Homo sapiens: one gene and its partners. The main gene of each other region encodes a partner of the protein of the gene in region 2 in a complex. Links are inferred from orthologs where the notes say so. Each region holds a gene or a part of one and is shown on either strand. Other genes may lie near its edges. The genes, in order: PDE6G, GNAT1, RHO and UNC119.

Evidence for each region.
Region 1: the proteins of GNAT1 (region 2) and PDE6G are in contact, whole or in part, in a cryo-EM structure (PDB 7JSN), measured with the Bos taurus proteins. The link is inferred for Homo sapiens from one-to-one orthologs. Residues at the interface, in NP_851365.1 of Bos taurus: Ser140, Arg201, Arg204, Lys205, Trp207, Ile208, Phe211, Asp227, Val229, Glu235, Val236, Asn237, His240, Glu241, His244, Leu245, Ser248, Ile249, Ile281, Phe283, Glu305, Leu306, Met308; in NP_776846.1 of Bos taurus: Arg36, Gln37, Phe38, Lys39, Ser40, Lys41, Pro42, Pro43, Lys45, Leu60, Val66, Ile67, Cys68, Pro69, Trp70, Glu71, Phe73, Asn74, His75, Leu76, Glu77, Leu78.
Region 3: the proteins of GNAT1 (region 2) and RHO are in contact, whole or in part, in a cryo-EM structure (PDB 6OYA), measured with the Bos taurus proteins. The link is inferred for Homo sapiens from one-to-one orthologs. Residues at the interface, in NP_851365.1 of Bos taurus: Ala27, Arg28, Asp189, Leu190, Val312, Glu314, Tyr316, Asp333, Ala334, Asp337, Ile340, Lys341, Asn343, Leu344, Lys345, Asp346, Cys347, Gly348, Leu349, Phe350; in NP_001014890.1 of Bos taurus: Leu72, Arg135, Val138, Val139, Lys141, Ser144, Asn145, Phe146, Arg147, Val230, Ala233, Gln236, Gln237, Ser240, Thr242, Thr243, Lys245, Ala246, Glu249, Val250, Met253, Met257, Asn310, Lys311, Gln312.
Region 4: the proteins of GNAT1 (region 2) and UNC119 are in contact, whole or in part, in a crystal structure (PDB 3RBQ), measured with the Homo sapiens proteins. Residues at the interface, in NP_000163.2 of Homo sapiens: Gly2, Ala3, Gly4, Ala5, Ser6, Ala7, Glu8; in NP_005139.1 of Homo sapiens: Asp87, Phe88, Val89, Arg90, Phe91, Ile105, Lys106, Lys107, Gly126, Arg127, Phe128, Val129, Tyr131, Phe137, Val147, Glu163, Leu172, Ser218, Tyr220, Asn230.

What each region holds. Positions count from the first base shown.
Region 1 is NC_000017.11:81,653,419-81,661,345, reverse strand, and holds the start of PDE6G (retinal rod rhodopsin-sensitive cGMP 3',5'-cyclic phosphodiesterase subunit gamma), read left to right. Parts: upstream 1-4,803; 5' UTR 4,804-4,853; intron 4,854-7,619; exon of another isoform or gene 7,620-7,688; intron 7,689-7,927.
Region 2 is NC_000003.12:50,187,317-50,194,940, reverse strand, and holds the start of GNAT1 (guanine nucleotide-binding protein G(t) subunit alpha-1), read right to left. Parts: upstream 3,332-7,624; 5' UTR 3,216-3,331; coding exon 3,110-3,215; intron 1,809-3,109; coding exon 1,766-1,808; intron 1,677-1,765; coding exon 1,535-1,676; intron 1,436-1,534; coding exon 1,278-1,435; intron 1,189-1,277; coding exon 1,060-1,188; intron 850-1,059; coding exon 720-849; intron 441-719; coding exon 287-440; intron 177-286; coding exon 1-176. Other genes in the region: SEMA3F (semaphorin-3F isoform 1 precursor), read right to left, coding at 6,826-7,236. UniProt on the Homo sapiens protein: Functions as a signal transducer for the rod photoreceptor RHO. Required for normal RHO-mediated light perception by the retina.
Region 3 is NC_000003.12:129,531,390-129,536,329, reverse strand, and holds the end of RHO (rhodopsin), read right to left. Parts: intron 4,080-4,940; coding exon 3,914-4,079; intron 3,798-3,913; coding exon 3,558-3,797; intron 2,723-3,557; coding exon 2,612-2,722; 3' UTR 986-2,611; downstream 1-985. UniProt on the Homo sapiens protein: Photoreceptor required for image-forming vision at low light intensity. Required for photoreceptor cell viability after birth.
Region 4 is NC_000017.11:28,549,625-28,557,942, reverse strand, and holds the start of UNC119 (protein unc-119 homolog A), read left to right. Parts: upstream 1-5,318; 5' UTR 5,319-5,385; coding exon 5,386-5,605; intron 5,606-5,850; exon of another isoform or gene 5,851-5,878; intron 5,879-8,318. Other genes in the region: GPI-anchor transamidase component PIGS, read left to right, coding at 971-1,116, 1,677-1,777, 2,882-3,092, 3,448-3,723. UniProt on the Homo sapiens protein: Involved in synaptic functions in photoreceptor cells, the signal transduction in immune cells as a Src family kinase activator, endosome recycling, the uptake of bacteria and endocytosis, protein trafficking in sensory neurons and as lipid-binding chaperone with specificity for a diverse subset of myristoylated proteins.

The DNA of each region.
Region 1 (7,927 bases), on a different chromosome or scaffold from region 2:
CCATCAGGCATAGCTCACTGCAGCCTCAACCGCCAAGGCTGAAGTGATCTTCCCATCTTAGCCTACCAAGTAGCTGGGACTACAGGCAAGTGCCACCATGCCCGGTTCATTGTTTTTTGTCTGTGTCTGTATGTGGAGATGGGGGTCTTCCTACGTTGCCCAAGTTGGTCGTAAACTCCTGGGCTCCTGCCTTGGCCTCCAAAGTGCTGTGATTACAGGTATGAGCTACCATGCCCAGCCTACAAAACAATTTTTAAAAACTTAGCTGGGCATGGTGGTGTGTGCCTGTAATCCCACCTACTTGGGAGGCTGAGGCAGGAGGATCACTTGGGCCAGGAAGTCAAGACGGAAGTAAGTCATGATTGCCTCACTACACTCCAGCCTGGGTGGCAGAGACCCCTGTCTCTAAAAACAAAACAATCACACACACAATCATATTCATAGTTCAACATGAGCACTTGAAGTAATTAAAGACCCCAGGGCAGCACACAGAATCTGCTTAGCCTGTAGATAGAGAACACAAGAAAAGCCATGGCAAAAAACTACGTATGTCCGGCCGGGCACGGCAGCTCACGCCTGTAATCCTAGCACTGTGGGAGTCTGAGACGGGCGGATCACTTGAGTCTAGGAGTTTGAGACCACCCTGGGCAACATAGTGAGACTCTATCTTTACAAAAAATACAAAAATTAGCCGGGTGTGGTGGTGAGCACCTGTAGTCCCAGCTACTCAGGAGGCTGATGTGGCAGGATTGCTTGAGCCTGAGGAGGTCAAGGCTGCAGTGAGTTTGTTTGTTCTCAAAAAACAAACAAAAAACAGTTTATAGTCTTTATACACAGCCGCTTTGGGAAAGCTCCATTCCTTAACTTGTGCTTGTCTTGGTCTTCCTGTGTGTAGTTACTGCTGTAGAAAAGTATTAATAGCTTCATTTTTTTGTTTTGAGACAGAGTCTCTGTCGCCCAGGCTAGAGAGCAATGGCACAATCTCTGCTCACTGCAACCTCCACTTACCGAGTTCAAAAAATTCTCCTGCCTCAGCCTCCCCAGTAGCTAGGATTAAGGCACCTGCCACCACGCCTGGCTAATTTTTTGTATTTTTAGTAGAGACAGGGTTTCGCCATGTTGGCCAAGCTGGTGTCGAACACCTGGCCTCAGCTGATCCACCTGCCTCAGCCTCCCAAAGTGCTGGATTACAGGTGTGAGCCACCGTGCCCAGCCTAATAGTCTCATTTTGTTTCTTTTCTTTTTTTCTTTTCTTTTTTTGAGATGAAGTTTCGCTCTTGTTGCCCAGGCTGAAGTGCAATGGCACGATCTTGGCTCACTGCAACCTCTGCCTGCTGGGTTCAATCGATTCTCCTGCCTCAGCCTCCTGAGTAGCTGGGATTACAAGCATGCACCACCACGCCCGGCTAATTTTGTATTTTTGTAGAGACAGGTCTTCTCCATGTTGGTCAGGCTGGTCTCCAACTCCTGACCTCAGGTGATCCGCCCACCTTGGCCTCCCAAAGTTCTGGGATTACAGACGTGAGCCAATGTGCCCGGCCTAATAGTTTCATTTCATGTAAACATAAGTAACTTCCAAGCAATTACGTAGAGGGCTAAAATTGTACCTGGTATTTAAGTCATCAGAACCGGTTCTGCAAGTGACTGTGTTTTGCATTATTGTGAAGATATGAAAATGTGGTGAACGACAATTTAAAGAGTGTTCCACATCACCGTTTAATTTCTTTTTTATTATTTATTTATTTTTGAGATGAAGTCTTCCTCTGTCGCCCAGGTTGGAGTGCAGTGGCGCCATCTCAGCTCACTGCAACCTCCGCCTCCCGGGTTTAAATGATTCTCCTGCCGCAGCCTCCCTGGCAGCTGGGACTACAGGCGCCCGCCACCACGCCCCACTAATTTTTTTAGTTTTAGTAGAGATGGGGTTTCACTATATTGCCCAGGCCGGTCTCAAACTCCTGACCTCAGGTGGTCCAGCCACCTCGTCCTCCAAAAGTACAGGGATGAGCCACCATGCCTGGCCTATTTTACTATTTCAGAGTTGAGGTCTCGCTCTGTCACCCAGGTTAAAGTGCAATGGTACAATAATAGCTCTCTGCAGCCTTGAATTCCTGCAGCCACCGATATTTCACTTCTGCATTCCAGCCTAGGTGACAGAGCCAGATCCTGTCTCTCAAAAAAAAAAAAAAAAAAAAAAGATATGGATTGCAATCTTGTTTCCTCTGGGGCTGAGTGAGGGATTGAGCCATGTGGGACAAGAGGTTTTTGACTTGTTCCATTTATTGCAGCATAACTTGAATCCAGCCGTCCTTTCTGGACTAGTGATTTTTGCCAGTCTCATGGCTAGAGTTTTACAATCAAGGCTATAGGGTCTTTGTTTAGGTCTATTTGGAGCTTTATGTATTTTCATGTGATTGTCTTTGTATATTGTCTGTGATACATGATACCAAAAAAGGAGTACTCATACATTTTATTTTATTTTACTATTTATATTTTTATTATTATTTTTTGAGACAGAGTCTCACTGTTGCCCAGGCTGGAGTGCAGTGGTGCAATCTCAGCTCACTGCAACCTCCACCTCCTGGGTTCAAGCGATTCTCCTGCCTCAGCCTCCTGAGTAACTGGGACTACAGGTGCATGCCACCACGCCCAGCTAATTTTTGTATTTTTAGTAGAGACAGGGTTTCACCATGTTGGCCAGGCTGGTCTTGAACTCCTGATCTCAAGTAATCCACCTGCCTCGGCCTCCCAAAGTGCTGAGATTACAGGCGTGAGCCACCATGCCCGTCCAGGTTTTATTTTTAATTTTTCAAAATTTTCATATTTCTTCAGAGATAGGGTCTCTCTCTGTCCCCCAGGCTGGAGTGGTTTGACCATGGCTCACTGCAGCCTCGAGCTCCTAGGCTCAAGGGATCCTCCTGCCTCAGCCTCCCAAGTAGCTGGGTCTATAGAAGTGAGCCACTGTGGCCAGGCACGGTGGCTCACACCTGTAATCCCAGCACTTCGGGAGGCCAAAGTGGGCAGATCACGAGGTCAGGAGATTGAGACCATCCTGGCTAACATGGTGAAACCCTGTCTCTACTAAAAATATTAAAAATTAGCTGGGCGTGGTGGTGGGAGCCTGTAATCCCAGCTACTCAGGAGGCCGAGGCAGGAGAATCACTTGAACTCAGGAGGCAGAGGTTGCAGTGAGCCGAGATCAGGCCACTGCACTCCAGCCTGGGCAACAGAGCGAGACTCAGTCTCAAAAATGAAATAATAAAATAAGAAGTGAGCCACTGCACCTAGCTAATTTTTTCTATTTTTTGTAGAGATGGGGGGGTCTCACTATGTTGTCCAGGCTGGTCTTGAACTCCTGGCCTCAAGTGATCCTCCTGCCTCAGCCTCCCAAAGCGCTGTTTGAGAGCCACTGCTCCCGGCCGAGTTATGGGTTTTTATTTATTTATTTATTTATTTATTTATTCATTTGAAACAGAATCTCGCTCTGTCGCCCAGGCTCTAGTGCGGTGGCGCGATCTCGGCTCACTGCAAGCTCCGCCTCCCGGGTTCACGCCATTCTCCTGCCTCAGCCTCCCAAGTAGCTGGGATTACAGGTACATGCCACCACGCCCGGCTAATTTTTTTGTATTTTTAGTAGAGTCGGGGTTTCACCATGTTAGCAAGGATGGTCTCGATCTCCTGACCTTGTGATCCACCTGCCTCAGCCTCCCAAAGTGCTGGGATTACAGGCATGAGCCACCACACCAGGCCTGAGTTATGGGTTTTTAAAGGTGCAGAGGCAGAGGTCACAGGCAAGTCATAAATCAGTACATGGAGGTTGTACACTGGTTTTGCCATAAATAGCAAGGAGATCTTGAAGCCAGGGACCACGGGTCATAGGTGGATTCAAAGGTTTTCTGATTTGGTGCAGAAGCGAATCTTTGTCTAAAACTTTGGGATCCGCAGGAAAGAATGTTAGCTCTGGGTTGTGGGCATGGCCTCCTCCAGGCCCCTCAGGATGGGCATAGCCTCCTCCAGGCCCCTCAGGAAGAAATTTAGGTAAGAGAAGGGTGGTCAGAGGCCAGTCCTCAGCTCCCGCTCATGTGAGGTCTGTGTGCCAGCACGCCCCTTTGGTGGGAGTCCCTGTTTCTGGAAAACAACTGAGGAGCACCTGCTAAGATGGCATGGTTTGCTTCTGTGGAGACTCTCGGGACTCTGGCTTCCATCTGTTGTTCTAAGCTCCTGTGACCTTCTTGTGACCTTCCTGTGGATCGGCTGCTCATTTCCTTCTCTGGGCTGGCTGGGGGCCTGGCTTGCCCTTGAAGGAACTCAACATTGTCCTTGCTTCTGTGCTTGGGAAGACCCACAGGCCCCTAAGGGCGGGGGGGGGTCCTTGTTTGGTTTCAGGAGCAGCAGGTGCAAAGGCCCTGGGGTGGGAGGGGTGAGATGTGAGGCCACAGCAGCGGGTGAGGGCCAGGCTGCAGAGGGTTTTGGGGACCATGAAGGTGGGCCCTTCAGAGATCAGGCAGGGTCAGGAAAGGCAGTAGGGAGGCCCAAGACAGCAGACACTGTGGTTGCTTCCATCTGGAAGATGGGCAGCTGCAGGAGCCTGGCTGTTCAGGGTCACACTTCTCTCCCTGTCCCGGCCCCATCTGCTGGGTGTCCTTCCTTGGAGCCCTTGACAGCACCTGAGCCCCTCCTCTCCATCCCCTGAACCTTGGTGGTTGTGCCCCCCCTCGGGGCCCAACAATCTCATTAGGGTGGCACTGAGACGCCTAATCAGCTCATGAAGCAGCGAGATAAAGGCCGGGGCTGGCACCCTGCGGAGGGAGGCCCAGCACTCACAGCACAGCCCCCTGAGACCCGCCCTGCACTTGGTGAGTAGTGGCCAACCCCGCTGTCTTTCCTGGCAGCCACTTCCCCCAGTGAGTCAGTGGGGGTCTGCTCATCACCCAAGGGGCAGAGGGAGCTGACAGGCTTTTACCACCGTGGCTGAGGTCTGGGTCTGCAGATGCCTACCCGCCACCCTGTTATTCAGAGGGGACTCCCAGCCAACCTCCTCCTCTGCTCCCCCATGGTAACCAGTGCTTCCACCATCCCCAGGCCAGTGATGGTCTGGGAACCTCAGGCCACGTGGGCTCAGCTGACCTGAGTGGACGCCAGTCACAGGCTGGGTCGGGCCAGGGCAGCGCAGGCAGCGGTTTCCACATGGATGGCATCTGATGGTTGGAGCTCCATCAGGGCCCAGAGCTGCCCAGGACAGCCCATGTCCCAGGGCTGGAGAAGCAGCTGGACGGGGCCTGTGCTATCTAGGATATGAGGATTGGGTGCCATGGGATCTGAGCAGCTGGGACCACCGGGCTCCTGAGTGCTGGTTTTGCACAGGCTGGTGCTGGTCCCAGTCCCGGGGACAGAGGCTGAACCTTAGTGAGGGAAGGTGCCATGGCAGGGTCCACCCCAATCCCAGGTGCCCAGCACCCCTTGCAGAGCCCGCGTCCCCAAAATGGGCCACCTGCCCTTGCTTTCTGATCACTCTCACGCCTGAAGCTCGGCAAACAGCTGGTAGTAGCCCAGGGCTGGAGTCAGGAATCCCAGCCAAAAAGACCAGGGGCAGGAAAGGGGACCCCAAGAGGTGGTCCCTGGGGCATCCAGTGCGGGCAAGCAGCCCCTCCTGTCTGTGTCATGTGCCTCCTTCCAGAACTTTCCGGCAGCATGTGCAGCTGACAGCAGCTCGATGGGAGATTAGGAATTCCCCTCTGCTGTTAATAGGCTTAGGGGAAGCTGAACTGCCCTTGGCCCAGGTCACTGGGGCTTAGGGCATCTGGGGAGAGGCTGTAGGGAGAGGAGGAGGAGAGGCCACCCTGTGCAGCAGTGCAGGGACACTGATCTCGTCCAGAGCGGCCGAGGCCCTTCAGCCACGCCACGCCACGCCAGGCGGGTGACCCTGCTCCCCGAGCTGACTCCAGACACAGAGAGGGCCTGGTGATTCCCCCAGCAGGGGGAACACATGCCCGGCACCCTCCGTCCCCAAGCCCCAGCTTGTCCCTCTATGAAGTGGGGTTGGGGAACGCAGGGCTTCACAGCTCAGCACCAAGTCTCTGAGACAGGCCCCTTTCCCAGGGGCGCCGTGCCTGGGGACCCTGCCCCCCATTTTGTGGGTCATTCTCCATCAGCACTGCGGGGTGCCCGTCATGGTGCTGAGGGGCTCAGGGATGCCTCCGTGAGTGGGTGAAGGGAACTGACAGCACCCCAACTGCAAAGCACAGACAAGAGGCAGAAAGCAATAAACCCATCAATAAGAATCAGAGGGGTTGGCCGGGCGCAGTGGCTCACGCCTGTAATCCCAGCACTTTGGGAGGCCAAGGTGGGTGGATCACGAGGTCAGGAGATCGAGACCATCCTGGCTAACATGGTGAAACTCCATCTCTACTAAAAAATACAAAAAAAAAAATAAATTAGCCGGGCGTGGTGTCGGGCGCCTGTAGTCCCAGCTACTGGGGAGGCTGAGGCAGGAGAATGACGTGAACCCAGGAGGTGGAGCTTGCAGTGAGCTGAGATCGTGCCACTGCACTCTAGCCTGGGCAACAGAGCGAGACTCCGTCTAAAAAAAAAAAAAAGGTGAGATTCCAGCCACAGCTCTGGAATAGGATCCTAGGGGGCTACTTTGGCAGGTATTAAAACTTTTTTAGGCCGGGCGCGGTGGCTCACGCCTGTAATCCCTGCACTTTGGGAGGCCGAGGCGGGTGGATCACAAGGTCAGGAGTTTGAGACCAGCCTGACCAAGATGGTGAAACCCCATCTGTACTAAAAACACAAAGAAAAATTAGCTGGGTGTGGTGGCGCATGCCTGTAATCTGAGCTACTCCGGAGGCTGAGGCAGGAGAATTACTTGAACCCGGGAGGCAGAAGTTGCAGTGAGCCAAGATCTCGCCACTGCACTCCAACCTGGGTGACAGAGCAAGACTCTGTCTCAAAAAAAAAAAAAAAAAAGAATCAGAGGGCAACAGCCCGGGAGACGCCCACCAGCCTGGAATCAGGGCTAACTCGACGCGTGATGAGAAGCGGCAAATCAGAACCTAAGGACACAGTGGCTGCAGGGCGGGGGTTCAGGGGAGACCTCCCTGAGCGGGAACTTGAGATGGAGGCAGCCCACTAACCATCAGGAAGGGCAGCTCAGAGGCAGGCTCCTCTGCTGGGCCTGGCAGGCCCATTCCCAGCAGGAGCCACAGAGGACTTTCATCAGAGTAGCAGCTGGGCCGGGTGCGGTGGCTCACGCCTGTAATACCAGCACTTTGGGAGGCTGAGGCGGGTGGATCATGAGGTCAGGAGTTCGAGACAACCTCGTCAACATGGTGAAACCCCGTCTCTACTAAAAATGCAAAAATGCAAAGATTAGCCGGGCATGGTGGCAGACGCCGGTAATCCCAGCTGCTGGGGAGGCTGAGGCAGGAGAATCACTTGAACCCGGGAGGCGGAGGTTGCAGTGAGCCGAGATAGTGCCACTGCACTCCAGCCCAGGCAACAAGAGCAAAACTCTGTCTCAAAAACAAAACAAAACAAAAAAAAACCCAGAGTAGCAGTTAAATGCCGACGGGAGTCACGCTTCCCTGGGGTGGGGAACGCAGGGGAAGGGGCAGGAAGTTGTCAGTGGTCACCCACAGGGAGGTGGTGAGGACTCCAGGCTCAGGACCTGCCACAGGTTGGGAGGCTAGGTTTGCTGTGGATTGTGGGCCGGGGCGAGGGAGGCCAGGACAGGGGGGAGTCCGGAGCTGTGTGTGGCCAGCGTTGCAGGGGGGCATCCACTAGGCAAGGGGAATGGGAGCGTGCGGGTGGACCCAAGCAAAGCTGGCAGGCTGGTTACCCCAGGGCGGATTGCAGGGGCTGCTGTCTGGATGACGCTGGAGCTGGCGGGGCTGGGTCTCAGCCCCTCCACCGGTGGGTTGAGACCCCC
Region 2 (7,624 bases):
GTCTTTGAGGTTCTCCTTGATGATGATGTCGGTGACAGCGTCGAAGACAAATTTGACGTTCTGCGTGTCGGTGGCGCACGTCATGTGGGAATAGATCTCCTTCACGTCGCGCCGCATGTTGAGCTCGAGGAACTGCACCTTGATGTAGTTGCCGGCGTCCTCGTAGGTGTTGGGTCCTGCGGGGGCGGGAGCTCTCACTCTGCTCAGCCCTTCCTTCCCCGTGCGGGGGGTGCGCGCCGCGATCGTGGGGCGGGGGCGCCGCCTGGCGGCCTTGCGGACTTCTCACCATCGTAGTCCGGGAAACAGATGCTGAGGTGCGCCTTCTTGATCTTCTCGAAGAAGACGTCCTTCTTGTTAAGGAAGAGCACGATGGACGTCGTGGCGAAGTAGCGGTGGTTGCAGATGCTGTTGAACAGGTGCAGGCTCTCGTGCATGCGGTTCTGAGGAGGGCAGCAGCTGTTGGGCACCCGGGGTAGCGTCCGACCCGCAGCACCTGCTCTCTGGGCTCCCGGGCACGCGGGGCTTCCCGCTCAGCTGGCTCTCAGAGGGCTCCCCGCACTGCCCCAGATGGGCCTGCTGAACGCCTCCGGGCCTCCTCAGGCCGCCCGGGACAGGCATCCCCTCCCGTGCCCTCCCCCAGCCCAGCGCGCGGTCTCCGCCTCCAGGGACCAGCAGCTCCTCCTCGCCCCCCTGGAACACAGGCCCTGCCTGGCACGCACCACTTCGTCGTCCTCCACTAGCACCATGTCGTAGGCGCTCAGCGCCGCGATGAAGATGATGCAGGTCACGCCCTCGAAGCAGTGGATCCACTTCTTGCGCTCCGAGCGCTGCCCGCCCACATCGAACATCCTGCGGGGCCGCGGGGGCCTGAACCTGCGCCCCGGGCCCCACAGGCAACATCCCTTCGCCCTGTGCTGGTCGGGGAGCTCTCGGCCGGGACTACCACCCTTTCTGCTGGCGGGGTATCAGGGAAGGGGCAGGGTCTATCGCAGGGATGGGGTCCCCGGGGCAGGACGGGGCCTGGGGCAGTGACCTCCTGGGCTAGCGTATGGGTCGTACCGGAAGTTGAGATCCTTGAAGGAGAACTGCGTCTCGATGATGCCAGTGGTCTTGACTCGCGAGCGCAGCACGTCCTGCTCGGTGGGCACGTAGCCCGGGGTTACCAGGCGCTCCAGGTCGGAGAGGTAGCTGCGCGAGACCCGGCCGTAGGTGGGTGGGGAGGCGTGGAGGGCCCCCTGCGCCCCGCGCCCCGCGCCCCGCGCTGCCCGCGCGCTCACTAGCCCGCCGAGTCGTTGAGCTGGTACTCCGAGGCGCGCTCAAAACAGGCCTGGATACCGGAGTCCTTCCACAGCCGCTGGATGATGTCCGACATCTCCTTGGGCATCGTGCCCTCCTCGATAGTGTCTGCCATGTGCATCAGCTTCCGGGCGTCGTCCTGGGGGCAGGGTGAGAGTGGCTGGTGGCGGCCAGGGACTCGGGCCCAGCCGCGAGCCTCGAGTCCCCAGAGGCCCGCTCAGCCCGCCTCCTGGCACACCTGGCGTGCAGAGTCTCCGTACTGGATGTTGAGTGTGGTCATGGCGCGTACGATGGCCAGGATGGACTGCAACGTGTTGCCGTAGATGATGGCGATAAACTCGAGGCACTCTTCCAGCGAGTACCCGTCCTGGTGGATAATCCTGAGGCCGAGGAGAGCAGAATCAGCGCCTCGTGGGGAAGTGGGGAAGGACCCAGACCCAGGGGCCTCGGGACAGGCAGGGGCACTCACTTCATCTGCTTGACGATGGTGCTCTTCCCGGACTCACCGGCACCTGAAAGAGACGCGGCGCCTCAGAGCTGCGCTGACCAGCCTGCCCCCTCCAGCAAGGAGGCCAGGAGGACGGGGACCTCCCGAGTTGGCAGGGTGGACCCGCAGCGAAGAGGCCTGAGCGCCAGCCCCGACCCCGTAGCCACACCTACCCCCCCATCCAAATTAAGTCCTGACATCCTGAAGTCACAAGGTTTGCAAATGCCAGGAAAGTGAAGAAAGGAAGCCAACGAGGGGACTCAACGACCTCAACTGTTCTGGGACAGGGGAGTCCCCAAGACCCCGGCACAGGCAGCCTTTATTATGCTGTGAGACTGCAATGAAGAAATCCCGGAGCGTCATCGCCACCTCGTGGGAGCCTCTGGTACCGCAAGCACTGGGTTATTTGAGGCGGGTAAACCCCTTGCATTTCACCTGAAGGGGTGCAGGTGTCTCCAGGAGGCTCAGAGGGAATTAGCTCTTTTGGGTAGGAGGGAGGGCAGAGTTGACATCCTTTCTGAGCTTGCCCCTGCGAGGGCGTTGGGCACAGTTAATGAGATTTCCGGCTTAGCCTCTCTGCCTTGGGGGAAAGTGGGACTGGCTTGGTCCCTCACCCACCTCCAGCTGGTTGACCAGACCCTGGGGAGCTTGGGTGGAGCCCCTCTTGAAGCTGCTTTTTCCCCTTGAGAGGTCAGGCAGTGACCTTGAGGCAGGCCTGGATCAGCCCCATCTCTCCTCAGTGCCCATGGTCCAGTGGACGCGGCTTTATCTACTCCCACTGGGCCTCAGTACCCGCCAGCCCCTCTGGCTGCTTTGTAGGTCTATCAGCCACAGCCCTCTGGCACCTGAGGGCCATTCGTTGTGGATCTGGGTGGTCCTAGAGGCTCCCCACTCCCAGGAGGACTATGGCCATCCCCTTCCCAAAGTAGCAGCCCAATAACGGGCTCCCAGTGAGGCTCCTGGCTTCTGAGCATTGCCTAGCAGGCGTATCAAACCAAAGGCTGCATGAAGCTTGCGGGAACCCAGCCACGGAAAAGTCGGCATCACACACCCGTGCAAGAGTGTGGTTGGCACGCACTTCTGGGGAGGGTGGGTCACCTGAGGCAGAGCCGTCTGGAGAGGGGCTTTGTGGGATGTCCAGCCCTGGGGGACTAGGACACCACCTGTCAGGCCTGGCCTTGCTTGGCCAGGGCTCCCACCCTGTGCCCTACTCTGTCACAGGCTCATACTGCTTCCCAGGGAATCCTTGCTTCACAGAAGGGCTGCCTGCCTGCCTCCAGACCAATGACCTGGTGGCAGTGGCCCCACCTGGGCCCACACCCCTACCCAGAAGCAGCAGCTTCACGGTTCGAGCATCCTTCTCAGCGTCCTCTTTCAGCTTCTTTTCCAGCTCCCTGGAGTGCTTCTCCTCAGCACTGGCCCCAGCCCCCATGGTCCCAGCAGCAGGCGAAGGGACAGAGTGAGCAGGTGGTTCTTCTGGATGGAGGGGATCCCCAGAACCTGGCCTCCCAGGCACCCTTCTGGCCCCAGGAGGACCTGCAATCAACTGGCTCTCTACGGACCTGTGCAATCCCTGGTGGGGCTGCTTAGTGGGATTTGGGGGCTAGGGGTGTCCAAGAGCCAATCAGAGACAAGGACAGGTGAATCCAGCTCAGCCCCCCCAACCCTTCTAATCGGGCTGGCATAGCCCCAATCCCTCAACCGCTGACTCTGCACTCCGGCTGTCCTTCTGTCCCCGCAACCCTCCAGGAGAGGCCCTGGCACTGCCTGGGAGTGGGGAGACATGTTCAGTAGGGTCAGGGCTGAGAAAGGGGAAGGCAGAACCTTGAGCCCTGGGGGTGAGGACAATGGAGGTGGGGCTGGCAGTGAGAGGGCATAATTGGGAGAAACATGCCTGCTGCCTGCCCGGCACCAGGCTCAGCACCACTCCTTATCTTGTTGTAAGCTCACACTGGCCCTGGAGTATGGATGCCCATATCATCAGCCTCATTTTACTGATGAGGAAGTAAAGGCTGAAAGGGTCACACAGTAGGAAGTGGTTAAGAAGGGCTGGTGACTCTGGACTGGGATTTTATGACCTGCAGGGAATCCAGAGAGAGGGAAACAGTGGGCATTGCATTCATCCCATATCACAGGCTGGAGCTGCCCCAAGGAGGTCCTCTGCTTCCAGCGGACTGTGGTGGGCATGCATATCTGCTCTGTGTGCCTCGGTGTATGTGTCTTTTTTTTTTTTTTTTCTGAGATGGAGTCTCGCTCTGTTGCTCAGGCTGGAGTGCAGTGGCGCAATCTCAGCTCACTGCAAGCTCCACCTCCCAGGTTCACGCCATTCTCCTGCCTCAGCCTCCTGAGTAGCTGGGACAACAGGTGCCCGCCACTACGTCGGGCTACTTTTTTTGTATTTTAGTAAAGACAGGGTTTCACCGTGTTAGCCAGGATGGTCTCAGTCTCCTGACCTCGTGATCTGCCCGCCTCGGCCTCCCAAAGTGCTGGGATTACAGGCATGAGCCACCGTGCCTGGCCTTTTTTTTTTTTTTTTTTTTTTTTTTTTGAGACAGAGTTTCACTCTGTTGCCAGGCTTGAGTGCTGTGACACGATCTTGGCTCACTGCAACCTTCAACTCCCTGGTTTAAGCTTCTCCCACCTCAGCCTCCCAAGTAGCTGGGATTACGGGCATGTGCCACCATACCCAGCTAATTTTTTGTGTATTTTTAGTAGAGACGGGGTTTCACCATGTTGGTCAGGATGGTCTCGATCTCCTGACCTTGTGATCCACCCACCTCGGCCTCCCAAAGTGCTGGGATTCAGGTGTGAGCCACCTCGCCCGGCCATGGGTGTGTCTTTTGCTGGCACCAAGCGAGCAATAACTTGACACATTTGTGCATGAATACCTGTGTGTACATGTGTGCCTGCATGTTTATGCCTTTGTGAGTGCATGTGCTCTTATAGGAATCACGTGCCTGTGCGCATGCTTATGTATGTGTGCACATGTATACACATGTGTATGCATGTGTGAATATGCTTTGTGTATTCTCTTCATGCACACATAGGCTTGTGTGTTTTGCAGTTTGTGTAGGTTTGCATGTGTGCACTTGCTTATACGCAGGGGTGTAAACATGCCTGTTTGTACCTGAGCATATGTGTGCCTGTGCATGTCCATCTCTGCCTGTGTATGACTGTGTGTGTGCATGCATGCTTGCAGGCGCCTGTGCCTATATGTACACTTGAATTTGGGTGCAACAAAGTCTCTAATCTGCAGAAGTGGCCAGGCTCTTCCAGAGAATGTTTTGCAGGCCTGTTGCCAGGTGGAGAAATTGCATCCCAGAGCAGGTGTAGTGTTCCCTGGGGTATGGAGGAATGGGGCTCACCTATCCTGCTCCTGCTCTGTCTGCTGTGGGTGCTCTGAGGCCTGCCTAAGATTATCTCCAGGGCCTGCCTGCCTCAGCTTAGGGGGTCTGGTGCTCTGTTCAGGTGCAGGGCTCACTGCCGGGCAGAAATTGTTCAGGTTGAGCTCCCAGGTTCTAGAGACTTCCCACCCTCAACTTCCATAGGAAAACCCAAATCTTGGGCTCTCAAAGGCTCCTCCAGGCACCCTGAGCCTCCTGGCTGGACTCTTCCCTGGAACCTGGCTGCCTTTCAGCACTCAACTCTGCCACAGACTCAAGAGACCACAAGGGGGTGCCGGGGCACCAGACACTGAGCACTAACGGCTGTCTCTAAATAGTATGCGTGGGAAGTGAATGCTGGCTCCTACCACAGGCTGGCAGCTTCTACACCCACCCTGTTGGATGATGGGGATCTGTCCAGGAGTGAGGCCGTTGCATTTCTGCCACTTTCAGCCTTCAGGCTCCACCCACCCTCCCTGACCCTGAGGAGTGAGTGGGCCCTGAGGGGTCTCTACAGCCCTTCGCACTACCCAAGTGTTTGGGGTGGTGCAGCAGCCCAGGTTTGTCAAACTAAATGTGGTTTCTACATGTTGGGTTTCTTTAAATGGAGCCAATCTACTCCCTTCCCAGCCCCCCACCTGGCTCCCCAGGCCCACCACGTGTGGCTCTAAATCCCCTGACCAAGGAGAGAAGCCAAAGTCTAGTCCCAGAGCCAGTGTTTATTAGCAAGATGGAACCCAAAGGCGGCTGTGGCCTGGGCAGCAGAAGGCCACCAGGAGCCCCCACCCATCTACCCAACTGCCCCCCAGAGCTAATTACATCCACACCCATCCCCTGAAGTGGTGGACATAAGGGAGCCCTGGGGAGCCTCTACCGGCCCCAGGCCTCTACCACGGACCCCCTCCCCTCAGAGCTGGGGCCTCCCGTCAGCTCTGCCTGGGCCTGGCCCCTCTGCTATGCTCCCAGCCTCTGAGTCAAAGTGGCACAGGGAAAGCTAAGGAGGTAGAGTGGGGTGGCCCTGCCCTGGCCAGGCGGGGAGGGGAGAAGGGGCTGAAGAGGCTGTCCCACCCAGGCAGGATGCCTCTTCTCCTATCCCCAATAAATAGAGAATAAATACCCAGGAAGGGGCTGGTCGTGGCTGAGTGCCCCCAACCCAGGCAGGGGCTGGCATCCTGTGATGGCCCCTTCTTCCCTTCTCTGTGTGCTCTTGAGGCCACCCCAGTCTCCAAAGTGGTCCTCGCATCCATGTCTATGCCACAGCACAGGCTGACAACACACATCAGAAAAGGTGGACAGTCCGTGCCCCATCCGAGTAGGGCTTGCTCCCTCCCTTTGTCCTGTAGATCTTGGCGGAGGCTGTCCAGCAGGTAGACTTCCAGCTGAGTCTGGGGACTGTGTGGTCCTGGCCTGGCCCCACCAACTGGCTGGGCCTGGTTAGGCAGGCTCTGTTTTCTGCCGTCTCTGACCAGCATGGGTCTAAGTTTTGGAGGATGCTGCCACTGAGGCAGGCTATATTCAACCCACCAATAAATACTGTCTTTGCAGGGGCAGGGTGTGTATAGAATATAGATATTTTATATATATATATATATATATATATCTTTTATATTAAAAGGGACAAGGGCTAGGCTGGCCCATGGCAGGCACAGGCAGCTGGCCTCATGTGTCCGGAGGGTGGTGCCGGCGGTTCCGGGGCTTTTTCTGGTCCTGGGGCTCAGGAGACCGGGGTGCCCCTGGAGCCTCCCTGGGGCTGGGGGGCACATGGCGCCAGTAACCCTGGCAGTACTGGTGGATGAGGCCCACTTCTGGCTGGGCCAGCAGCTGGGCTAACTCCTGGTAAGGAGGCGTTGGGGGGCCTGCGCCTGGGGGTGGCGGGGCGCTCATGGACAGTGGTGGGAAGAGGGCAGCATGGACGGCGTCCCGGCCCAGTACATGCAGCTGCACTCGTGTGACGACGTGCTTAAAGTTGTTCTCAGTGGCTGTGCAGGAGTAGAGGCCACGATCGCTGAGCTGCAGTGCACGGAGCAACAAGCCCTGCTCTGTGCGCAGGAAGCGGTCCTCTGCACGAATCTGCAGGGGCAAGGAGAGGGGGTTCAGAGGCTCTGTGACCACCCTATGGCCCTAGCCAGCAACCAGATCAGACCACCTTTGTGGCCATTCCGTGTAGAGGCACCCATGTGGGATTTCCATATGCCAGAAAAACCACATGAAGTTTCTACATAATGAGAGATATTTGAATAAGGCATCTGTACAGATTTCCATTTCAGGAGTGATGACCATAAGGAGGTTCTGTACAATGAGGAAAATTTGAAGCACACACAGAATTCCTTTTTTTTTTTTTTTTTTTTTTTTGAGACAAGGTCTGGCTCTGTCGCCTAGGCTAGAATGCAGTTGAATGATCTCGGTTTACTGCAACCTCTGCCTCCCAGGCTCAAGCCATCCTCCCACCTTAGCCTCC
Region 3 (4,940 bases), about 79 Mb from region 2:
GTCATCGCCAAGGTCTGATTGCAAAAATCCAAAAAATTGCAACCTCAGGCATAAATGAGTTACGTATGATCAGGTGACCTAGACTTGGCCAATCACAGAATTAATCCCCATCTCAGTCATGGTGATACCCTGTGCCTGAAGCCCCGGGCTTTTTGTTCATGTGAGCCAACAATGTGTCCCTTTTGCTTCAGCCCAAATGAGTTGGATTTCCTATCACTTGTGACCAAAAGTATCCTGACTGATATTATCTAGTGAGTCACAGTAAAGAGGGACAATGATAGAGATCCCAGCATGATTTGCCCCAGCCTCACCAAGGCACCGAGGATCGGCTATCTCATGCTCCTGCCCTCCTTTCTCACCTCGGAGGAGGGGGTGACTCTCGGGAGCTTTAGCTCCATCCTTTTCCCCTTTGGGACAGGGTCTCTAGTAAGGCCAGCTCTGAGCTGAAGCCCAGTATTGCCATAGTCTCATCTGCTGCATGCCAGGCAGTAGGCTGGCCACTTAAAGTCCACAGTCGCATCTAATCCCCTTAGGATCAAGTGGTTTTTTTGTTGTTGTTTTTTGTTTGTTTGTTTGTTTGTTTGTTTGTTTTGTTTTGTTTGGAGACAGACTGTCCCTCTGTTGCTCAGGCTGGAGTGCAGTGGCGCAATCTCGGCTCACTGCAACCTCCACCTCCCAGGTTCAAGCGATTCTCCTGCCTCAGCCCACTGAATAGCTGGGATTACAGGCACGCGCCACCATGCCCAGCTGATTTTTGTATTTTTAGTAGAGACAGGGTTTCACCGTGTTGGTCAGGCTGGTCTCAAACTCCTGACCTCGTGATCTGCCCACCTTGGCCTCCCAAAGTGCTGGGATTAGAGGTGTGAGCCACTGTGCCCAGCCAAGGTCAGTTTTAAGATTCTTTTTTGCAGATAAGGAAGCTCTGAGAGGTGACAAAGCTTGTTTGCAGTTTTATGGGTTACCTGTGCCTCTATGACCCCAAAGTTGGGGTTTTTCCCATTCCCAGGACTGCCTCCTCCACCTCTAGCCCCAGGGGACTCTGTGCTGCTTGGCTCTGCTCATTGCTCAATCCAGCCATCCCAGGGTCAGGGATCAGGTGGAAGCTGGCAGTTTCAATCTATCCTGTGGATAGAGTGTGAAAGCAACAAAACCCACCACCGTTAATACCAACATAGGAGCTGAGCTTTTAATGGCCCAATTTGCCTTAGTCTCCAGGCAGAGCTGGGTAAAGCTAGAGCTTCTGGCTTTGCTTATATGGAGAAGGGGGAGCAGTTACTGAGGCAGCTTAATTCTGACACCTCAGAGATGTGGCCAGCTTTTTGGAGCAGATTCTCCAGAATGGAGAATGGACTAGCAACTGCTGAAGATGGGCTTGTCTGGCAAGGGAAACTGGAAACTGGGGCCCATGAACATCCCCAAGGAAGGTAGGCCCAGTGGAATTTCCCACTCTTTGTTTCTAAGCTCTTCGAGATAAGGATGACATCAGGGACTCAGCTGTTAATTAAATGTGGGCGGGTGAGCATGGCTTCTAGAGGCTCCATGCTCTAGATGCTGGGACCCAGGTGCTAGAGCAAAAGAGCAGGTGGCTTCCAGAGGCTGAGAGAAAGGCCTGTCTCTCCATAGGCCACATTGGGAAGGGGAGGCACGGGACCTGGGGCCCCACACTAGGGGTGAGACCCCAGGCCCAATCTCACCCTCATTGGGAACTTGGCCTTCACCGTCCCCCTCCCCCAGTGTTGTTTTTTCAGGTCTGATGACTGCATTCTGCATTCCTGTGACTGTCCCTGCCTACAGCCCAACCCCCAGCCCTGGTCTGGCCTTGATGCCTAGCTAATTTTTAAAAACCTGCCCCAAGGTTGGGTGAAACCCCATCATCTGAATGCCCAATCTCAAAATGTTCACTATCAGGAGGTGATAATCATAGTAATTAACTAGTTACATTAATTGATGTTATTCACAACATTAACTAGAATCTGTACAGCTTCTTGCTATTTACAAAGTGCTGAAACACACACATAGACACACACACACCTCTTTTGGTCTTCTCAGTAGCTGCGTGTCGGCAGGACCAGGGATCTGGGATTTCCATTTTATAGGAGAAGAAAGTGAGGCCCAGGGAGGGAAAAACAACTGCTCCATATCATTAGCCAAGTATGAGTTGCTGCTGCTGCGAGGGTCTGAGAGGATAGATATGTTCTCCCTTCCCATTCATTCCTCCATTCCTTCCTGCATCCATCCAGCATTTATTAAGCACCTACTGTGTGCCCCATTCTGTGCTAGACACTTATCCCTAAGCTGGGACACTTTTCCAGAAAGCAAGAATCCTCGTGTTCCTGAAAGATGAGTTGGGAGGAGGAGGGGCACACATCCCGCTGGCCTTGGGGAACGTGGGACTCCAGATCAGTAGGTCTTGGTGGATGTCCCTTCTCAGGCTGTCCCAGGTGAGTGAGGAGCCTCATTAATTATTTCTTAAAAAAAAAAAAAAAATTAAGGAGCCTATGTGACTTCGTTCATTCTGCACAGGCGCTGCTCCTGGTGGGATGGCTGTGGCTGGGGGAAGGTGTAGGGGATGGGAGACGCCTATAGTCGGCCACAGAGTCCTAGGCAGGTCTTAGGCCGGGGCCACCTGGCTCGTCTCCGTCTTGGACACGGTAGCAGAGGCCTCATCGTCACCCAGTGGGTTCTTGCCGCAGCAGATGGTGGTGAGCATGCAGTTCCGGAACTGGAAGGCAAGAGGCTTGAGTCAGGGCCAGGGCTGCCCACAGTGTGCTTGGAACTGGCACGTTAGTGAGGTTCGCCCCGACCCTTTGCCTGCTTCTGCCCCTCACGATTCCAGCGCCCCATCCACTCAAATCCAGCTTCCTGGAGGGAACCTGCTAGGCAGACGCTCCTCACCCCTAGAGATGCCAGGGACTGAGCACAAGGGGGCTGTGTCACCCGTGACATTTCATGGTGCCCTCTGTGTGCCAAGGGTGTTCTGTAAATTATCTCTTGTAATCCAAGAGTTTGGTGTTTTGCCCTTTCTACCTTTCTATGGATGAGGAAACCAAAGCACAGAGAAGGAAATTGACTTGCCCAGGGCCATACAGCTAGAAAATGGCAGAGCTGACTTCAGAGACTGTTTACCCAACTGTTTACCCCTCGGAGGTACCTCTCCGAGGAACCCTTTACCCCTTTACCCCTCAGAATAAGACTTTTTAGCTCCTTATTCAGCTTTATGGAGACTGGCCCATCCCATTCCCGACTTGGGTCCTTCTGACTTTGACATTGGGCTTCCAGAACTAGCTGACTGGAGCTTCTCCCACCTGAGTGAGCATCTGAGCCACCTGTGGAGGGCTTGCTGGAAATGCAGGTTCCTGGGCCCACCCTGAGATTCAGCAGTTCTGAGTGGGGCCAGGAATCTGCATTTCTCACACACTCCCCATTGGGACTGCTGACCCAAGACTGCTGCCAGTAACCCTGATGGAGCCCCCTCCCCTGCCCTGGGAAGTAGCTTGTCCTTGGCAGGCAGCGCCTGTGGCCTGGGGCACTGGGGCCCTCCCACCCGCAGTAGGCACCTGCTTGTTCATCATGATATAGATGACAGGGTTGTAGATGGCGGCGCTCTTGGCAAAGAACGCTGGGATGGTCATGAAGATGGGACCGAAGTTGGAGCCCTGGTGGGTGAAGATGTAGAATGCCACGCTGGCGTAGGGCACCCAGCAGATCAGGAAAGCGATGACCATGATGATGACCATGCGGGTGACCTCCTTCTCTGCCTTCTGTGTGGTGGCTGACTCCTGCTGCTGGGCAGCGGCCTGCAGGACACGGGACCCGGGTCCAGACCATGGCTCCTCCAGGGAGCAGGAGCCGCAGATGCATGCTGGGGGCTGGACCCTCAGAGCCGTGAGGCCGCCCACCCCCCGGCCCGTACCTCCTTGACGGTGAAGACGAGCTGCCCATAGCAGAAAAAGATGATAATCATGGGGATGGTGAAGTGGACCACGAACATGTAGATGACAAAAGACTCGTTGTTGACCTCCGGCTTGAGCGTGTAGTAGTCGATTCCACACGAGCACTGCAGGCCCTCGGGGATGTACCTGAGGACAGGCAGGTAGGGAGACCCTGCCTGTGAGGGACTTGGGAACAGCCAAGGTGGCTGCCGAGCGCTGGCCCTTTCTGGGGCTTCACATTCCCTCCCTGGAAAAGGGGATCATAAACGTCTGCATGGCTGGGTGACAGGATGGAATGGATCAGATGGGGATGCAGATGCACCTTGTGGAATCAGTGTCGCTTCATTGTTTGGTGGCTGCGTTACCAGATGACACCACCCAGCCTCTCCCTGCATGCCCAGCCCCAGCATCCACTGCCCGCTGAGGCTAGGGCTATGCCACGCAGAGGGTTGGTGAGGAGGTGGGGAGAGCCCTCAGGCTCTGCATTTGAGGAAGTTTGTACAAACCGAGGTCTTCCTAGCCCCAGGGTGAGAGTATTTTCCAGGCCAAAGATGGACACACAGAGTATCTAAGGGATCTTTGTGCAGCTTCTGGAAACTAGAGGCTTCCAGCGCACGTCATTAGGACGTGGCAATGGTTCCTGATATTGGTGACAGTGGACGGGCCTCAGGAAACCCAGAGCGTCCAGCGGCTCTGCTTCCAGAGGATAGAACTAGGCCAGATTGGAGAAGATGGGGAAAAAGTCCAGGGGGTGGGCTCAAATTCAGCAAGGGGTAAGAAATGGACCCTAGCAAGACTGAGGAGGAAAGGGAAGTGAGAGTGGGAATTTTCTGGAGACAGAGGGACATGAGGCCTCTGGGGACCAGAGTCACCAGTCCTATTGTCCAAACCACTGTCCCCACTGTGTCTCATCTCAGCCCCATTAGGAGACAATCGCCTAGAGGCTGAGTGGGACCCAGTTCCAAGGGGCCACAATATGGCCACCTGCACTAGGAAGGTGTGGCCTCC
Region 4 (8,318 bases), on a different chromosome or scaffold from region 2:
CTAGCACTTTTTACAAATGAATGACTAGGCTGGGTCTATCTCCCTAAAAGCCATCTAGGAGAGAGGCTGTCACACACATAGGAAAGACAACAGCAAAAGTACTTGAGGGCAGAATTTGAATTGACAGTTCTGCTGATTGAGGTTGAATAACCTTGAAGCTAGTATTAGAGTTTTTCATTTTTCGGGTGGAAACTAGGAAGAGGAGGTGTGACTAAGAACTGTAACACAGGCAAACCAAAGTGAGTATATCTAATTGTGGAATCTCAGATACCAGAGGCAGGCTAGTGTGGCCCAAGGATTGTGAGGGGGTGGCATGTGAGGCCTTAGAAAATTCCTCCGTTCATTTATTCATTCAGCAAACATTGACTGAGGGACTACCTTATGACAGTGCTGAGTAGAGAAAAGAAGGGCATTTCAGGCAAAGGGAACTGTGAGCTTAGATGCAGACAAGTGAGAGAGCTTAGGCATTCAGGAAGCTCAGAGTAGTTTAGTGTGGCTGAAATGTGAGTGAGTGACCAAAGATGAAGCCGGTTAGGCAGGCAGGAGCCAGGTCATAAAGGACCATGTTAAGGAGTTTGAACTTTAACCTGATATGGGTGGCTAGTGATTGAGGGATATTAAGCAGGGAACTGACATAAGGTCAGATTTCTGGTTTGCATAAAACTATCTGTAGTAATATGGGTACATTGTGGGAGTGGCCAAGAAAGCTGTCGTAGACAGTCAAGGGGCCTTTGAGGAGGGAGAATTCGGGGGTGTTTTGGAGCTAAGGACTATGTTTCCATCGGTATGGCACATCTCGGGAGAACATTCTGAAGCCCTTTACTAGAGACACCCTGGACAGGAGGATATCCTAATGATTGTTAGTTGGGGAATCAGTCCCAGAGTGAGTGACCAGCAAGTTAGAGGCCGACCTGGGACTAAGGTCCAGGTCCAGCATGTTTTGATATTCTGCTTTCCCTTTATACCACAGGATCCAGTGCTGCCTCCTTGTACCCTGTGCTCAACTTTCTACTCTACGTGCCTGAGCTTGCACACTCACCGCTGTACATTCAGGACAAGGATGGCGCTCCAGTGGCCACCAATGCCTTCCATAGTCCCCGCTGGGGTGGCATTATGGTAATAGTCACACTACGCAGACCCCAGAGCCCATGCTTCTGGGACAGGCAGGTGTCCCTGAAACTGTGTTCCTTCTGTTTTCCTTCTGGTGTCCTCCATGGCCCAGCCTGTGGGAGGGGCAGGCACCAGGAAGGTGAGGGTGCTATGTGCTCATGCCCCTCTTCTGCCGGCCCCACTTTTGTTTCCGCCAGTGTTTTCTATACTGTGACCCTTTGCCCTTACCTAGGATCATTCTGTGTCCATCTTAGATCTTCGCCTTATTTGTGGGAGTCTTGCAAGGTTGGGAGCCTTGTCTCCCTTGTTAGACTGGAAGTTTCTCATGGGGGAGAATTCTAAAATGGGATAAGAAAAAAATATGTTCTACAGGACTTTCAAGGGGGTAATTGGGATAATGTATTTAATGCTCTCCGTAGTAGGTACTCAAAAAATATTAGCTATACCATGAGGTTTATAGCTTCTAAAGAGCACAGAATATGTTTTCCTTTTCTCTCCAGAGTGCCTAGGGCAGAGCTGTGCAAGGGCCTGGTATGATGTTGTGGCAATCTCATTCCCCCTTTCAGGTATATAATGTTGACTCCAAAACCTATAATGCCTCAGTGCTGCCAGTGAGAGTCGAGGTGGACATGGTGCGAGTGATGGAGGTGTTCCTGGCACAGTTGCGGTGAGGTCCTGGATGATCCACTTGGGGACATAGTCTCCTTGGCTGTAGAGGGGAGTTGCAAAGTGGAATCAAGTCTTACCTGGCAGGGATATCTTGGCTGTGCCTAGAGCCCCAGGGAAACCAAGAAAAGTTTCTAAGGATCCCATCATCCTTCTAAGAAGGACTAGTAGGTGACAAAATCATTTATTTTTTTTTTTGAGACGGAGTCTTGCTCTGTTGCCCAGGCCGGAGTGCAGTGGTGCCATTTTGGCTCACTGCAACCTCCACCTCCCGGGTTCAAGCAATTCTCTGCCTCAGCCTCCCGAGTAGCTGGGACTACAGGTGCCCGCCACCACAACTGGCTAATTTTTTGTAATTTTAGTAGAAACGGGGTTTCACCATCTTGGCCAGGCTGGTCTTGAACTCCTGACCTCGTGATCCACCCGCTTAGGCCTCCCAAAGTGCTGGGATTACAGGCGTGAGCCACTGTGCCCAGCCAGCAAAACCAGTTTTAAGAAAAATAGACTCATGAATGTCAGGTCCATGGAGTGTGATTAGGGCTGCTTAAGAAAATAGCTGTTAATTCTTATGCTGCCTGATGGATTGAGAGTGGCTGCCTGAGGCTCTGTGTTGAGGATTCTAAGGCTGTATCTGGGCTCATTAGGAAAGAGTATTCTTCTGATTGACTAGCAGTGTCTCTCACGGATGCAGGCTTAGAGAAGCACAGCACATGTGCCTTGGCAAAGGCAGTCCTGGATCATCCCTTAATGCTAAGTCCCATTGGCCCCATTTGTTCAAAGAGAGGGTAGAAAAGGTGAAAGGATTAAACTGAGTTGGTGTTATCAGAAGTATTTTAGCCATGGAACCTTTTTTTAAAAAACAAGATCTTGGAAATCTAATGTAGAAACAGGTAAAAGCAGAAACACCTGTTGAAGCAGCGTTTGGGGCCAACTTGTTTGGTGTTGCCCCTTATGCCCCCAAGACCCTGAGGTACTTCCCTTTAACCCCTATGGTTCTGGGTAAGATTGAAAATCACTGGCTCAGGACAGATATTTGAGAAATCTTAGCCATGATCTCCCGCCTTGTGGTCTCAGCCACCTTGATCTTACTCCGATGTTCCTACAGGTTGCTCTTTGGGATTGCTCAGCCCCAGCTGCCTCCAAAATGCCTGCTTTCAGGGCCTACGAGTGAAGGGCTAATGACCTGGGAGCTAGACCGGCTGCTCTGGGCTCGGTCAGTGGAGAACCTGGCCACAGCCACCACCACCCTTACCTCCCTGGCGCAGCTTCTGGGCAAGATCAGCAACATTGTCATTAAGGACGACGTGGCATCTGAGGTAAGCAGGCAGGGGATGGATTCTGCAGCTTGGGACTGGAGTAGCCAGAGAGGGCCAGAGTGTGGTGAGACCAGAGAGCCTGTGAGGTCCATGGTATGTGTGGGCTTGCCATCTTTAGTGTCCCAGCCTTCCTCTAGACGGCAGTACCAGCCCCCAAGCAGGAGTGCAGATGAGAGTGCGAGGTTTCAAGCTGACCCTAGGAAAATAAACCATATCCCTGTAGAAAGACTTCCATAGATCCTGGATGAACTCCAGGCATCTTCCTTGGTAGATGGAAGGCACAGTAAGGCCCAGCACCCTTTCCACCAATGCCTAGGACTTACTGGTATACCCTCTTGTCCCTTCTCCTTCCTAGGTGTACAAGGCTGTAGCTGCCGTCCAGAAGTCGGCAGAAGAGTTGGCGTCTGGGCACCTGGCATCTGCCTTTGTCGCCAGCCAGGAAGCTGTGACATCCTCTGAGCTTGCCTTCTTTGACCCGTCACTCCTCCACCTCCTTTATTTCCCTGATGACCAGAAGTTTGCCATCTACATCCCACTCTTCCTGCCTATGGCTGTGCCCATCCTCCTGTCCCTGGTCAAGATCTTCCTGGAGACCCGCAAGTCCTGGAGAAAGCCTGAGAAGACAGACTGAGCAGGGCAGCACCTCCATAGGAAGCCTTCCTTTCTGGCCAAGGTGGGCGGTGTTAGATTGTGAGGCACGTACATGGGGCCTGCCGGAATGACTTAAATATTTGTCTCCAGTCTCCACTGTTGGCTCTCCAGCAACCAAAGTACAACACTCCAAGATGGGTTCATCTTTTCTTCCTTTCCCATTCACCTGGCTCAATCCTCCTCCACCACCAGGGGCCTCAAAAGGCACATCATCCGGGTCTCCTTATCTTGTTTGATAAGGCTGCTGCCTGTCTCCCTCTGTGGCAAGGACTGTTTGTTCTTTTGCCCCATTTCTCAACATAGCACACTTGTGCACTGAGAGGAGGGAGCATTATGGGAAAGTCCCTGCCTTCCACACCTCTCTCTAGTCCCTGTGGGACAGCCCTAGCCCCTGCTGTCATGAAGGGGCCAGGCATTGGTCACCTGTGGGACCTTCTCCCTCACTCCCCTCCCTCCTAGTTGGCTTTGTCTGTCAGGTGCAGTCTGGCGGGAGTCCAGGAGGCAGCAGCTCAGGACATGGTGCTGTGTGTGTGTGTGTGTGTGTGTGTGTGTGTGTGTGTCAGAGGTTCCAGAAAGTTCCAGATTTGGAATCAAACAGTCCTGAATTCAAATCCTTGTTTTTGCACTTATTGTCTGGAGAGCTTTGGATAAGGTATTGAATCTCTCTGAGCCTCAGTTTTTCATTTGTTCAAATGGCACTGATGATGTCTCCCTTACAAGATGGTTGTGAGGAGTAAATGTGATCAGCATGTAAAGTGTCTGGCGTGTAGTAGGCTCTTAATAAACACTGGCTGAATATGAATTGGAATGATACAAAGTCTGAGCTCTACTCTTTCTGCATTCACGCGTAAGTAACAGTTTCCTGGTGTTTGTCCTCCTGTGCCCACAGGTCCACTTTGCTTCCACGTGGCCATGTGCCCTTCCTAGCTGGATTGCCCAAGGCTGTTAGCATCTGCTTTTTACCTGAGATACTAATTCATCAGGTCAAAAAAAAAAAAAAAAAAAAAAAAAAAGTCTTGAGCACCAGCTGCAGGGAGCCTTCTGCTAGGTACAGGGGTCCTACAGAGAACAAAGTAGGCAGGACCAGTGCTTTCACAGAGCTGAGCTTTCAGGGGGAAGAGTCAGCGGACAAATAAAAATAATTTCACATAATGCATTAGAAAGACAAAAACAGGCTGGTCAGATGGTGACTGAGGGGGAAGGACTTCAGACTGGGTGTGAGGGAGGCCCTTTGAGCAGATGACATTTGAGCTGTGACTAGGAGAAAAGAGGCCATCTGGGGAAGACCATCCAAGCAGAGACCCTGAGCCTGGAACTCACGGGCAGAAAGGCTGGAACACAATGAGTAAGCGGAGAGGTAGTCAGGACCCCACTAGTACCAGTACAAGAAAGTGTTAGAAAAACAGAATGAAGCCCAGGGCAGGATACCCCGACTCCCATCCCCCGCGCCCGTCGCATTTCGGGAGGGTTGGGCCGGGCGGCGGGCGGGATCAGCGCAGGGCCCACCCCAGGGGCGGGGCCGGGGCGGGGCAGTACCTGGGGCCCCGGCCGGGGGCGGGGCTGCGGATGCTCCCACTTCCCCCGGCTCCAGCCGGCGCAGGCAGCGGCGGCAGCAGCAGGCGAGCCTCGGCCCCGCAAGGCCATGAAGGTGAAGAAGGGCGGCGGTGGGGCCGGGACGGCGACGGAGTCCGCTCCGGGGCCCTCGGGCCAGAGCGTGGCCCCCATACCACAGCCGCCTGCGGAATCCGAATCTGGGTCCGAGTCGGAGCCGGACGCAGGCCCAGGGCCCAGGCCGGGGCCGCTGCAGAGGAAGCAGCCGATCGGGCCGGAGGACGTGCTGGGGCTGCAGCGGATCACCGGTGGTGAGCACCCGCGAGGGAGCGCCGCCCGCGGGTGGGAAGGGGAGAGGGTGCGAGGGGCCCTCCCGGCGCGCCAAGCCCTGGCCCCCGCCCCCTTTCCCGCCTCCCCTCCCCCACCGAGTCCCCTCTCCTGTGTCCCCTGCTCTCCCTTCTGCCGCCAGGTCTGAGATCTCTGTGTACCCCCTTCCCTTGATCTCTCTCTGTGCCTCCTTCTTCTCCCTTTCGAGATTTATTCCTTCCTTTTCCAGGGGCCCGTCCCCTTTTCCCAGCGTGGAGGTACGTGCGGCAGCAGCTGCAACCATAGCCCTGTAGCTGTGGAGTCTCCAGAGCGCTTTGAGGCCCGTCCCTGCACTAATGAAGAGAGGGGCTGAGTGCAGCCTGTCCTCAGCCCCCACGCTGGAGGCTAGGTGGAGGCTGAGTTACTTGGGAGGCATTCAGACTCTTCATGTCTCCCCAACCATTAATACCCTCACCCTGATCCTCCAGGAAGACTTGGGCCATTTTCTTCCCCGGGAAAGAAACTGAGCAGGCAGCTTTAGTGTGTTGGCTGTGGTTCCTCTCATGGGGAGTGGCATAATGTCCCTCCAAGCCTGGACTAGCACCTGTCCTCTTCTGGGGGCTCTGTCATCAAGGGAGGCTTGGTCTCCACTGTGGTTAAGAGTTTCTGAGCTGGACTGCCTGGGTTGGAGTTCCAACTCTGCCATATAATTGTCTGTGTGACCTTGGGCAAGTAACCTCACCTCTCTGAGCATGTCTTTTCATCTGTAAAATGGGGATAATGATACCTTTCTCGTAAGATTATTGTGAAGATAAGTCCTCTGATTCTGTACAGTGCCTGGCATCTATGCATGCTGTGTACATTGGGCTCTTTGATCAGTAGTATTTTTGGGCCCTACAGGGCTGCTCATAGCTGCTGCCTGGAGTCAAACAACTTGGCTTTCAGGGCAGGGGAGGGGGTCATCATAGGCAGGGAACGAGGGCTAGGAAACCTCATAGCAGAGGCTTTGGATGAGCCTCAAAGGATGAAAGGTGCATGGAGAGACAGTGGCTCTCCACCTTGGCCACATTCACCAGCAACCTGCCCTGGCCCCCTTTGTGAGAATAACTGTTGGGGGGGGCCTCTCTGTGGGTATGGGGGGCATGTATTGGAGTGGACCTGAGCCCTAGAGCTTCCAAAGCAGCAGAACACCGGACTCCCAGACAGAGCTGTGGAGGGGAGACAGCCTTGAGCCTGTGCTCCTGGGTCCCTGGGGGCCAATTCCTCTCTCCTTACTGAGCTAGGCAGCAGCCATTCTTAGCTGGGCCCCCAGAGTACTGAGCTCCCTTGCCCAAGCAGGCATCAATGGAGAGAGGGAGGCTGGACCAGGCTGATGTTGAAGCCAGTTGGGCTACAATTTGCAATAGCAGCATTTAGGATTCAGCTTAGCTCTGGGGCAGAACTTTCTCAGACTGACTGAGTCCTGAGTAACTTTGGGGGTTTATTTTGCAACTAGAGGGAGCTTCCAGCTCATGTACCACCATTTGTCTCCTAATTTGGAGGAAATTCATAGCCCTTAGAGATGGGGCATCTGTGAAGGGTAAGTAGAGGAAAGGGCTTCATGAGAACCCCTTCCTGTGCAGGAATTGAGAACAGAGTTCCAGGGATTTCCACCCTGGCACCCCTTGCCTGGTCTCTTCTGACCCTAATCATGCAGGTCTGAGGTTTGCTGTTCCCAGATTACTGGGCCCTGAATCCAGCTTAGGAAGCTATTTGTGGCTGAGAGGAATAGAGCAGTTGTGTTCTGAGCCCTTGGCCACTCTGCCCCTTATTCTGACCTGACCCTGGGTCCCAGGCCTCATCCTTTCTAGAAGAGAAGGAGTGGCCGTGGTGTTCTGAGCCATAGATATCCGTGTTCCTCACTTCTTCTAAGGACAGAGAGGTTGATAGATTGAGTTTGCAGTAGAAGAGACTGAGGTTAGACTGCAGGAAGTTGTTCCCAAATGAGAGAGGCTCCAAAAGTTGGAGAATGGGAGAAGAGAAGGCCTTACAGGGATCTGGGAGTTGGGCACTGGGATCCTGCTCCCCACTCTGCCACCTCCGTTCCCTATGCTCTGTACCTTCTTTCTATGTCTTTATACTGGTGCTTACTTTCTGTGAAAATAGGGTGAATGGGGTGAGATAGGGGTTGCCCACTTCCATTCTCTCCCCACCCCACATGTGGGCTGTAGTAGACTCAGGGCCCTGCCTCTTCCCCAAGCTGTATAAAGTCCATGCTGGGCCCCAGGGTACCAGATGGCTGCCAGGAGGGCTTCCTGGAGGGGACAGCGTCAGGCTTGGGGAAGAAGCAGACCTGGGGAAGAGAAAATGACTTTATATTCACTTCCTGTTCCTGCCCCAGAGGAATAGGAGGTGGCCCAGGGGCCTGGAGGGTGATTTCCAGGCCTCTGTGGGCCACCAGGGGAGGATGTGATGCTGTGCAGGCTGACAGCACGAGTCCCTCCCTGCACCTCTCAGCTCTTTTTGTTGCCAGGGCCTCCCTGAGCACTTGAAGTTGCTGCTGCAAGAGCTGTGAGGGTTAGATCAGGCCCTGTAGCTCCCTGAGCTTCCTCAGGCAGGGCCTCCCACTGTTCTTGGTTCCCTTCCTGGGCCTGAGGACTCCCCTTACCCCTTCCACACCCACTGCTGCACCTGCCACACCCTCCTCCTGGCCTAGCCTGTGTTCTTCTCTATGGGGGT